3 separate regions of the Homo sapiens genome follow, and all the other regions are linked to region 1. The links come from fine-mapping of genetic effects on gene expression. A gene starts in region 1. Each other region holds a variant in brackets. All regions are shown on one strand. Distances are between the middles of the regions. Region 1 holds the start of AFF3 (ALF transcription elongation factor 3). Region 2 overlaps AFF3 (ALF transcription elongation factor 3). Region 3 overlaps LYG2 (lysozyme g2).

Region 1 (4,359 bases):
CCCATAGTATCATCTAACATGAAGGCAATGGCTTCAGCCCGCACAGGTGAGGAATTCTGCTTTGAGATGAGCAGGATGGAAGGGTTTTTAATATCCATGGGGATCTGCCAGATAGCCAATGGAAGTGAAGGCACCCTGAAAGAGGAAATAGCATGTGCAAAGCTGTGACATAAAGCAGCCTGAAAGTTCAAGAAACCATGAGTGGTGGTGGGATTGTTGGGTGGTGAGGAAGGAAGTGGTATCAAGGATGGCAAGAGATGGTATTGGGGAGTGGGCAGAGGCCACTGAATCCAACATCTCGCCTGCCCAGCGATGGAGCCTTGGGATTTTCCTGTGGGTGACAGGGAGCCATTGAAGCGTTTAAGGACTGGTCGTGGGGTGAGGGGAGTGTACTGTCATCATTTTTGTAGTCTTTTGCAGAGAAAATTTGGAGGCAGTTTGGAAAACACTCTAGAGCCTGACATGTGAGAGATGAGTTAGGAGGTCACGTGTCCCCACTTTTCTAATTTTGTATCTTCTTCAGCAAAAAAGTCTTTGCCGCCTATTCTGAGCAGATGTATGATTATTCACAAATGATATACAATACAACTGTATTCACACATTGCATGCCTTGAAACATACACAAAATGTAAACACTAAAAACATGACGTAAAAATAGATGTAAGTCTGGGAACTCGATGGAGGTGGTGGCTGCACAGCATTGTGAGTGTACTCAATGCCACAGGATTCCCCATCTTAAAACGGCTCATTTTATGGTATGTGAGTCTTAATTAAATACAAAAACCAGACAAGTGTGGGTAGATAGACATTCAATTCCTTTCTTCTCATCCTTCAGTGAACGGTCTGGTGTGCCCTGGGTGCACGTACCCCTTGGGGATTAGGGCAGTGATGAGAGGCAATGGAGGGAGGGTGTGGCTGTGGAGATGCGGACGGGAAGAAGGATCTGAGGAGTGACTGAAGAGGTAGAATGGGCAGGGCTTGGTGATGGAAGGTTGAAGAGTATTCAGCAAAGAGAAGAACGTGGGAAGCCTCCCCATTTCTGGTTTGGGTATAAGATAAAGAAACGTTTTCTCCTTGCCAGGGACATGAGGCAGACAATACTGGGATAATTTCCCAGGGCTTGGGATAGGACTGGGTGGGGAAGTTTCTAGGTATCCATTCTCAGGATAAGGACGGGCCTGTTTGGATGAGGATAATGGAGGGTCAAACCTGAAGAAGCCAGATTAGCAGAGGCAAAGTGAGAGATCAGAAGGTGGTAAACTCAGAAGGGGGTAGAGACCTGAGGAGCAAGCTGGGACAAGGCAGGAGGGAATTCACAGGCCACATGGTAAGTAATGAGTGGGGTAGAGGACAGAGCAGGGTTTCATTGTGGCGAGTCTGACGGGAGGTGCTGGGGGATGTTCCAGGAGAACAGCAGAAATGTGTGATGCTATGGATGTGGGCTTGGCAAGTTCCATCTGGAGCTGGGAAGAGGCCACCCATGGAGAACAGGAACCATGAGGCGGAGAGTGGAGCTTGCAGGAGGGCGAAAATTAAGACCAAAGAATGGAAGCCTGCCAGTGTGAGAGACCGCCTGACAAAAACCAGGAGAGTATGGAGTCATGGCGGCCCAGGCAGAAGTTCTGGGAGGAAAGAAATGGTCAACACTACAGGGAAGTCAAACACTGCCAGTGGAGACAAATAGGACAGGAACTGAAAAAGCATCCATTAGTGAATCCCTGGTGTCATTAGTGAAAATAATTCCAGGCATGAATGGGGAGAGGGAAGGGTGTCGGGCAGGAAGTCCAGTGCCCGTGGGTTGACTGAATGGGAGATGAGGAGGTAACACCCATCATGTAGGTCATGTAGAGCAGCCTTAGGACATCTGATTCCTTGCCTAAGACTCTTCTTTCCTGGTGTAGCTTTGTTCTAGAAAGGTCTGGAAGACTTGTCACAGTTCCAATGCAGGATGAGCCTTTGGTCCTGATCTCTTGGAGGCCCAGACAGCCTGGGAAACCAGCAGAGCTTTGGACAAGTTAAGCAGCCCATTGAAATCAACATTCTTGATAATCATATATCTAAGAGATTCCAAAATGTTCCTGGGATTCTTTTATGGGTCTGCATAGGGTTAGAAAGCACAGGAGTCAAAGAGACCTTCTCCCTTGGCCTCCAGGGCCACCATCCTCTGCTTTTGTCAGTTGGTCTCCCCAGAGTAGAGTCCAGGTTCCTGCTTCCAGCCTTCTGGTAGACCAGGCCCTGCCACAAGTGAGAGTTGGCCGGTTGGGTATCTGGTTTAGTCACTCGCCTCCACACTTTCACATCCTCTATCAACACCTGCACACTTGGGTTGTGACCACACATGCTCTTCCTGTTTGTACAGAAAGTGCCATTCAGAAAGCTCGCCAGCGAGAAGAGAGCTCCACGCTCAGCCTCAGAAGAAAGACGTTCAACGACTTACTGGGGAGAGAAAGAAAAGGAACGGGAGCTGAGAGGTAAGATCAAACTGGAGGGTGTGCGGGCCCTCTAGGATGCCTTGCCTGGAAGAGAGGTAGCCCCGACTTTGTGTCCTGAAGGGTGGCGCTCTAAGTAGCTGTGCCCATGCTCCGCTGGTCAGGGCAGGGGGAGCATTCTTGGTCAGCCTCACCGAGATGGTCCAGGCCCTGGTGAACAGCCAGAGGGATTGAGAAGGAAGAGATGGGATGTGACCAAAGTTGGTCACTGAAGCCGTCAGTGTGTGTGCGTGTGCATGTGTGTGTGTGTGTGTGGTAGAGGGTGCACATAAAGAAGACATAACCTGAGTGTGAACATGCTCACACACATATTTATGATGCTGGCTGGGGCCTTATGAAAAGTGTGTCTTAACCTCATGTTGCTCATTAGCTATAACCTCAAAAATAGAAACCATGACATGGCCACAGACTGGATCCCAGTCAATGGCCCCAGTGAGTGAGCTTGCAAGGAGAGATCATGGGCAGTTCCACCTAAGGCCACCGTCACTTCTGCAGAAATGACTTGGAATAATGACCTCCTCACTGTTAGGGGCTAACAGCACTATATTTGTATTTCTTGGATGGAACATTGTATATGTGTGTATTTGTGTGTGTGTGTCTGTGTATGTGCATAAACACATCATGTATTTATACACATGACATTGTGTGTATGTGTGTTTATGTGTGTATATATATGTACACACACATATGATATAATGCAATATACACAGTGACCAGATTTTTGAAACCAAAGAGAACTAATAGCAAGACAAAGGGGTTTTTTTCCTAATATGTGATTTCCTTGCTATTCGAGTCTCACATATATAAAAATGAAATATGTCTACACATGTGTTTCATAATTCCTTTTATTCAAAGAGGGGATCATTCAGGTAGCTAAAGGTCAAGTGTTTACAATAACAAAGTGGTGGTAAACTCATTCTTTGAATGTTGATCGTACAAACTAAATAATCCATCAAAAAATGTTGTCTCTGCCATTATTAAAAGCATGTGTTCCTTGGTGCAAAATTTAAGAATGTTCTAACTACAAGAGCACCTTCCTTTACCTAGGGCTATCCCATCTCACTGTTGAAGTGAAGTGATTACAGTGAAAGTAATACAGACATTTAATATTCTTAGTTTTGGTTGTGTTTCTGTCAACTGCTATTCCCTTGTTCTAGGCGTAACTGCACTTAGTGTTTAGTGGTGTTATGCATATGTATATTTGATTTGCATTTAGAAAATAGAAAAATATATACATTGCTTATTTTCCAGATTTCAAGGTTTAAATTCCCACTCTAACATGATGGTTTTAGGCAAGTCACTATACATCTCTGCATCGGAGTTCCCACATCTGTAACACAAGTACAATAGTAGATAGTAATCCCTTCCTCTTAAGAATTAAATAAGCTAATACATGTAAAGTGCTTAGACAAGTGCCTGGAACATTGAAAGGGCTCAGTAAGTATTAGCAGCTGTTATCATTGTCATCATCATCATCATCATCATCACTACCTTTTGTACAATTAAGCCATCAAACTTGAAGGGACATGGTAAGAGTTTGGGAAAGGTGAAAGGTGGGAGGTGGTGTGTGTAAAATGGGTTTGGGGGGTGACACTTAAGGCCAGAGCAGTGACATTACAGTCCTTACACTGTAGCTACAGACAAGTAGTGAGCAGGAAAGAGGAACAGCACAGAACACCCCTCCCTATGAGGCCTGCTTGTGAGAGGAACATGTTCTGGAGCTCTGTGGGCTTGATGACATGTACTCATACACATCTTGTACAGCAAACCAGGAAATAGGCACATGGAACGGTGACATCCAAATGATAGTATATAACATGCATTCAGTGCCTCTCAGGTGTGAGACGTGGTGCTCGGCATTTTACACACA
Region 2 (4,000 bases), 580 kb after region 1:
TCAGAAAAATAAATGGAATTAAGTGCAGTCCATAAAAGCCACTAGTTTCTCGTAGTATCTGTCTGTAGAAGCAAACAGAGATTAAAAATGTACTCAGGACACTTATGTAGCTGTCAAAGTAAAAGTTACATAACAAAGAAAGAGGGGTAAATCTAAGCATTCCTCTGCATACCCAGGATGGAAATTCTTCTGGAGGTAAGCACAGAAGGATAGAACTTCACCTCCATCTGTCAGACACTCAGCCATAAATCAAAATGTGGAAAAATGGACATGTTAGCATATACATGAATAGTTCTTGAACTGGTATCACTCCCGACAATCTGTAGCATTTGAACTTGTACTGTTAAAGAGCAGAAAGTAGCTGTTCTAGTCATCACAGTAATGTAATACTTGGGAAAATGGAGCAGCACCAGCTAGCTTTTAAGAAAGAATTATCAGCAAGTACTATGAAAAGCTAAGGATCAGGCAGGGAGAACTACCATCATAGAAGTTCTGTTAATAAAAAAGCTAGTTTTACTATTTCTTTGCTTTTTATGTTTTTTATTCTATTCCTCCTCCCCGCTTTTTCTAAGGTATGCTATGAGACTAAAAACCCACTCAGGCCCCAATGCCACACCAGAAGACAAACAACTGGCTGCATTATGGTGAGTGCCCATCTCCGCTTAGAATAGCAGCCCCAGCCTCGCATGCCATCATTGGCAAACCAGGTGCTGAAAGGCATAGTGTTTGCCCAATGTCTTCTAACATACAAAGCCCCAGAGCAGTTCTAATGACCAGGGAAAGTCCAGACCATTTTTTGCTGCCGTACTATACATGATCTGAATTCACAGTGATTGAAAATCGACAGGCCTACCAAAGTGCTGGGATTACAGGCATGAGCCACTGTGCCCGGCCTAATTTTTGTATTTTTAGTAGAGATGGGGTTTCACCATGTTGGTCAGGCTGGTCTTGAACTCCTGACCTCAAGTGATCTGCCTGCCTCAGCCTCCCAGAGTGCTGGGATTACAGGCGTGAGCCATCGCACCCGGCGCAGCCGCTTACTTTGAAAATGATGCCACAGAAAAAAGGGAACGATCGGGTAACCTATAGTTCCTTTACCTGTCAGCCCTTTCTTACTCATCAGTAGGTGGAAGGCAGAGAATGTTGATAGAATACATGTCTACCAAGCAGTGAAATAAAGACAGTTGAATTAAAAAATAATAATAACAGCAACAGACACAAAAAAGGTCTCAAATTGTTACCTGTCCTGGATTTGGTTGGTAGGAGGAGATGGTGCCATTGCACCCAGAATGTTGGTATTCTGGATGTCAGCATCAGATCCGAGTTAGCAAATAACTGAGTGAAGAGCTCCAAGGAAGAGAGGATAAGTCTCAGAAACGCCTTTTGTGCCCCTTTCAAACTTTAAGTCCCATATTGGAATAATACACTAAATGACAATAATATGATTATATAAGATAGAATACTGATATATAAATAAGTATACAAAATATTATAGGAAATAATAAAATGATGGCACCTATTCCCAGCATAGTGTTTTTGTTGTTTATAATGATGGCACCTATTCCCAGCATAGTGTTTTTGTTGTTTATAAAGTACATTCATGTTTGTGACTTTAGTGGAGCTGCTTATAGTTCAGTAACATCA[G/C]GTGGCAGCGTCGTCCTTTCCGCAGAGCGGGGCTCGCCCGCGAAGCAGTGAAGGCTGCGTACTAGAGCTACCTCGCGCCTCTCGTGGAGAGACAGCGCCCTCTCGTGGTGGAAGAAGGAAGCGGCCGGCCCCTGTGACCCAACAGAGTGATTCACCTAATGCTGTAAAATTATCTAGTGATAAATGTATTTATGGAATACCTTCTTGGAATTTTGAATTCTATTTTTGGACAAAAGATGTTCCCTCACAGACATTATATGCACGTATAGAAAGATTTCCTATGTAGAAACAAGGTATTGTTATTGAGTACCTTAGAACAACAACAAAAATGTTTAAGTCTTGTTTGCGCACGACGCACTCAGCCGCTTCTGGGCCTGTTTCTCTTTTCGCCTGCAGTTACCGATGCCTGGCCCTCCTGTACTGGCGGATGTTTCGACTCAAAAGGGACCACGCTGTAAAGTATTCAAAAGCACTAATCGACTATTTCAAGGTACTGTCTAGTGAATGAGCAGAATTGTTCCTTAATTTCACTTGTCTCCCTGTCAAATTTGTGAAGCACCTGGTAGACTCCATTGCTTTGGGGTTAATGCAGGTCACCTCTGGTCCCCAAGGTAACCCCATTTATGCCACACTTGTGGCTTTCAGGCCTCAGAATGGACCTTTGAGAGCCCATCTAATGTATCTCCCTGCCTTCTTGTCCAAGTATTTTTATTTTTTTATTTTTATTTTTTTATGTATTTTTGGAGACAGAGTTTCACTCTTTGTTGCCCAGGCTGCAGTGCAATGGTGCGATCTCGGCTCACTGCAACCTCCGCCTCCTGGGTTCAAGCAATTCTCCTGCCTCAGCCTCCCAAGTAGCTCAGATTACAGGCGCACACCACCACGCCTGGCTAATTTTGTATTTTTAGTAGAGATGGGGTTTCACCATGTTGGTCATGCTGGTCTCGAACTCCTGACCTCAGGTGATCTCCCCGCCTCCACCTCCCAGAGTGCTAGGAATACAGGTGTGAGCCACCACGCCCAGCCTTGTCCAGGTATTTTTATGGCTTCAAGAGAAAGAAGATCCAGTTACTCGTTCCACTGTCCTAGGAAATTCATCTTTATAGCTAACATAAATTCCTCATGCTCACTTAGAGCTTCTTTTCCTTAGAAGTAACCCCTTAGAGCCATTCCCTCTTAGCCAGTCTCTAGTAGCTTATTTAATTTTTAATGGCGTTATTTAAAATGGTAAGAGATGGCTTGTTAGAACTCAGAAGCAGTAGATAGCAGTGTGTAGCTATAGGGATAAAATTGCAAACCATGCCACCTTTTACTTATCTCAGGGAATGAAATTATTTTCACTGGGAGAATAAATTTTTAAAAGCCTTCGCTGATGTACTGTTGTGAGGTCGACCTTACATTAATAATTAATTTGAGATTTCTGGTCCTCTTCTCTGTTTATCTATAGAAACTAGAAATTATGCCGTCTCTATCTCCAACAGCCCTTTGTCAGATACACAACCATCATTTGAGATCTGTTCATGCCCAACCTCCTCTAGAGGTGATCTCTAATGGCCAGGCTGTGCTGGGGGTTCCTGGGGTATGTTCAGCACACTGCCTTCCAATTGTGCATGTAGAGTAACCAGGTGCTAGGCCATGGACATCACTTTCTCAGCCCATTGACCGTCCTGTGTCTTCAGGACAAGAACCAGCACTGAGCCTTCCCTTTCCTTCAGGTGCCTAAAGTCAACATCAATAGTGTTCAAAAATCCAGAACGTAAGATCTACTACTAAAGAGAATTATTACAGTCAAGGAAAATGCTTGAATAAAGAAGGAAGCTGAATTCTGTAAGCCGCCAGGGGCTACAACAAACTTTTAAGGGATACAAGTTCTTAATATTCTCTGCAGCCCACTAATACATACAGAATGGGTAGAAAACACGCCAGGCGTGGTGGCAGGCATCTGTAATCCTAGCTACTAGGGAGGCTGAGGCACGAGAATCGTTTGAACCCGGGAGGCAGAGGTTGCAGTGAGCAGAGATGGCGCCACTGCACTCCAGCCTGGGCGACAGAGTGAGACTTTGTCTCAAAAAAAAAAAAAAAAAAGGAAAACACAACCAGAAAATCAGAGTTGCTCCTCAAGGAATTAATGTCATTTACCCTTCATCAAAAGCTATTTTTAAAATTTTTTTAATTAATCAACAACAAATTGCGTGTACTTATGTATAATGTGATGTTTTGATATATTTATACATTGTGGAATGATTAAACCAAGCTAATTAACATATCCATCACCTCACATACTTACCGTTTTTGTGATGGGAACATTTAAAATCGATTCTTTTAGAGATTTTCAAGTATACTATATATCATTATT
Region 3 (4,359 bases), 890 kb after region 1:
CAGGTGCGCAGTGATCTACTGACTAATGGATTCTCCAATTGTTAAGCCTATGTTACAGGACAAAGGCCGTCGCTTTGTAAAAGCTTGAAGTGCAGTTTGCTGCTGAGTACAGAAGACCTTTGCAAACAGAGAGGGGAGATTTTCTCTGTAAGGTTGCAAACAAGGTTAGTGCTGGCCTTCTTATGTCTTGTAAAACTTATAAGCTACCATTTGAATGAAACCAAGAATAGAGTTGATTGAGGAAGAAATGGAGCAGAGGAAACCTCTTCTAAGTCACGTTCTCATGCTCCTGTTGGTATTTTGTTTTATTTTGTTTTCCCTACGGAGACCCTGGTATAAGAATGGAAACACCCAGGCATGGTGGCACGCATATGTCGCCCCAGCTACTCAGGAGGCTGAGGTGGGAGGATCGCTTGAGCCCAGGAGTTTGAGGCCATAGTGAGCTATGATTATGCCACTGCACTCCAGCCTGGGTGACAGAGCAAGATCCCATTTCTAAATAAATGAATGAAAGACCAAAACTGATCCTTGAAGCCAGGGGTAGGGTGAATAACTAGAATGAAAAGATCAGTATTTTTTTTTTTAAAAAGAAAGGGAACAAAATTGTGGTGTTACCAAGCTTAGAGGTGGGATGGGAGTGTATATTTAGTTACATATGTAAGATACGCATGACTCATGTCAATATGAAATTGGATTGAAGTGAGATTAGGAGTTTATGCTTAAGAAAGAGAGTGTGCCAACAAACTATGTACTGAGCCTGTGAGAATACTATCTTGAAACAGGGAAATGAGTAGTGAATTGGAAATAACTCTAAACTTTTTAAAATATCAAAGCAAATTTTTCTTTAGGAAATTTTCAGGTTTTAAAATTAACCAGTTTCTATTTCAAATCAGAGCAGGTCCTGGAAGATAAGATTCCCCGCCATGTTATCCTCCGTGGTGTTTTGGGGACTAATTGCCCTCATTGGTAAGTCACTGGCTGAGATTTAGCATTGTTCACAGGGTGTCCACAAAAACCTCCAGCACAATCATGAATCAGAAAGAGCAATGATTACCTGTAATGGAAGAGTGGGCTCTCATTCTGACCAGCTTGGCCATTAATCAACTATTATTTCTATAATTAACAGTGTGTTCTGCTTGCTAAGCAGGTGAAAAACAGGATCTATGGGAATTTCAAATAATCTAATATTTATTGATCTGCTTACTTCCTGTCTGACAATGCACCTATCAGGCTGGATACCTTACCGAGAGGTATATGGAACAGTGCCTTGGAAGCAAAACACATGAAGAGACAATTATCAATGCCAAGCAGTGGATGAGAGTTCAATGTGTATAGGTGGGAAAAAAGCACTAGTCTGGGAAAGGTTTGGGAGGAAGAGCTCACATCCAACTAGAATGCTCAGATGTGAAAGGCTTTTGGGGGGGACATGTCAATTGAAGGATGCTTGGTGATTTAATAAGAAAAAGGAAGAGCCTGCTGGATGGGAAGAAAGATTTCAGTAAAAAAGCAGAGGCAGAAATGAATGAAAAGTCTTTGGGTCAGTGTGGTCTGGACAGACGAGGGGGTTTCTGGGGGGAAGGCTGGAAAGATAGGTTGGTAAGTTGGTAAGGGATCTTGAATAAGAGAATGTGAAAACTCTGACCTAAGCAAAATGAAAAGCCATTATGAGCAATGTTCAAGTTGTCTTTAATTATAGAATGGTGACTGAAAGGAAAGTGTTTCTAAAATGTTTAATTCTAAATTTGGAAAAACAAGGCTACCCGAAAGTAATTTCCAGTTACTTATGGTCAAAACAGGGCAACATAGTTTTAAATTTTTACTCTTTTTAGATTGCCAGGTGAGAGCAGAGTTAAATAGCCAGTAGATTAATTATGAGCTACCATATTAGCTGTGTATAGCTGAAAGGTGACTCTTAATTTAAAAAGGGCTTGTGTGTTTATAAGGCCTACACAGGCAGCGTAGGGTCCATGGTCATATTCCAGTTCCCTTAAAGCAGTGGTTCATAAACATGTGTAAGAGTCAACTGGGAATGCTGGGTAAAAGGCAGCTTCTTTCGCCTTATACTGCAAGATTTTGGTGCAGTAGATCTGGTGTGAAAAGCCCAGTGATAAGCCTTTTTTTTTTTTTTTTTTTTTGAGACAGAGTCTTGCTCTGTCGCCCAGGCTGGAGAGTGCAGTGGTGCGATCTCAGCTCACTGCAAGCTCTGCCTCCTGGGTTCATACCATTCTTCTGCCTCAGCCTCCCAAGTAGCTGGGACTACAGGCGCCCACCATCATGCCCAGCTAATTTTTTTGTATTTTTAGTAGAGACAGGGTTTCACTGTGTTACCCAGGATGGTCTTGATCTCCTGACCTCGTGATCCGTCCGCCTTGGCCTCCCAAAGTGCTGGGATTATAGGTGTGAGCCACCACGCCCGGCCCAGTGATAAG[C/G]ATTTTTAATAAGCTTCCTGGGTAACTTTGATGCCTGTGGTCTGTGGGCCACACAGTGAGCCTGGCAAAGACTGCCTCCCAGTGAAAGGATACTGAACCTGTCAATATAAGGACACTTGATCCAGATAATTTAAACAATCCCTTTCTGTCTCATTCCTTCATCCATCCAACTATCCATTCTTCCATTCAGCAAATGTTTATTAAATGTCTACTTTGTGCCAAGCATTGTTCCAGGTGCTGAGGAGGATATAGCAGAGAAAAACATCTAGTATCTGACCTAATGAAATTTATCTTCTAGTGAGAGGAACGAACAGTAAGAGAGTGAGAGGAAAAAGGGAAGAGAGAGGGAAAGAGTGAGAGGAAGGGAGGGAGATAAAAACATTTCACCTGTAAAAATTTTTGGGCTGGGCACGGTGGCTCACACCTGTAATCCCTGCACTTTGGGAGGCCGAGGCAGGCGGATCAAGAGGTCAGGAGATTGAGACCATCCTGGCTAACACAGTGATACACCATCTCTACTAAAAATACAAAAAATTAGCCAGGTGTGGTGGCAGGCACCTGTAGTCCCAGCTACTTGGGAGGCTGAGGCAGGAGAATGGCATGAACTTGGGAGGCGGAGCTTGCAGTGAGATAAAAACATTTCACCTGTAAAAATTTTTGGGCTGGGCACGGTGGCTCACACCTGTAATCCCTGCACTTTGGGAGGCCGAGGCAGGCGGATCAAGAGGTCAGGAGATTGAGACCATCCTGGCTAACACAGTGATACACCATCTCTACTAAAAATACAAAAAATTAGCCAGGTGTGGTGGCAGGCACCTGTAGTCCCAGCTACTTGGGAGGCTGAGGCAGGAGAATGGCCACTGCACTCCAGCCTGGGCGACAGAGTGAGACTCCATCTGGAAAAAAAAATTTTTTTTTTTAATGTGTCTCTAACATATAAGGACCAGCTCTGGCACAAAAAGATGTTCCTGGTTCATCTTGAACATTTCCTGCCCCAGGCAGGCAATCAGCCATTATTCTGAGGAGCGCTGGTTCCACTTAGCAGGAAATGGTATTTAGAGACCACAGTGTGGGAAGTAAAAGTGCTCCATTGCTATGGAGCTGTCGTTTATTTCAGGTGTTTTCAGTGGCAGGAACTAGAAAATATATATTTTTAAAAGGAAAACAACTATGCATTCAGATATTTCACATTTATATTTAAGAATGCAAGCATTTTACATCAGTTTTATATTTGTACCTCTGCTATCTTACACTAAAAATCCTAGTTCTAATGACATTAGCATTATTACTTATTTACATACAATAGTGTCAAAATAAGTATGACAGTATTACCAACCAACAATGAGACAGTAAATATAATTTAAGATTTTCTTGTGATTATTTATGTTCACAGGATGGATTCCTATGTAGTGGTATAGACTTATATGGATATATTTTAAAGTCACTTAAGATAATTCTCCTCTATGTGTTTATTAATCTTTCAATTTGTTATAGAGTTATGTTCATTTGTTCTTCTTTTTTATGATTCCATTTTTCCCCATTTGATTTAATTTTAAAATTTATGATAACATTTACATGGTTCCAAAATAAAAACTTTAAAAAAGATAGTTAGTCTATCCCCTATCCCTGTTCCCTTTACCTTCCTCTTACTCTCTCCATAACTAACAATTTTTATCAGTTTTTCATTCATCCTTGTATTGTTTCTTTTGAAAATATGAGCAAATCACACAAAATATACGATTGTATTTTCTTACCTTTCTTACACAAAGAGTACAATTCTATAAATACTATTTTGTCCCTGGAGAGAATTTTACAGGAGTATATACAGGTCTTATTCTTTCCTTTTGCAGCTGCATAGTGCTCCACTGTGGACGTAGCATCACTTACTCAACCAGTCCCTAAATTAATGACATTTGTGTTGTTTGCAGTC

The links. PIP is the estimated chance that this variant, and not a neighbour inherited with it, causes the effect.
Region 2: its variant is fine-mapped to the expression of AFF3 in whole blood (TOPMed, PIP 0.95).
Region 3: its variant is fine-mapped to the expression of AFF3 in anterior cingulate cortex (GTEx, PIP 0.93).

The regions. Positions count from the first base shown.
Region 1 is chr2:100,140,596-100,144,954 of GRCh38, reverse strand. AFF3 (ALF transcription elongation factor 3) reads left to right here and starts at 2,365. Exons shown (of 25, transcript NM_001386135.1): 1 at 2,365-2,471.
Region 2 is chr2:99,557,009-99,561,008 of GRCh38, reverse strand. AFF3 (ALF transcription elongation factor 3) reads left to right here. Exons shown (of 25, transcript NM_001386135.1): 21 at 573-644; 22 at 2,041-2,134. Among named protein-coding and RNA genes, the nearest start is that of REV1, 69 kb to the right of the region's middle. The variant G/C (reference allele first, on the strand shown) is at 1,645.
Region 3 is chr2:99,250,825-99,255,183 of GRCh38, reverse strand. It overlaps LYG2 (lysozyme g2), which reads left to right. Exons shown (of 7, transcript NM_175735.4): 2 at 47-164; 3 at 899-966. The coding sequence starts at 924. Among named protein-coding and RNA genes, the nearest start is that of LYG2, 2.7 kb to the left of the region's middle. The variant C/G (reference allele first, on the strand shown) is at 2,430.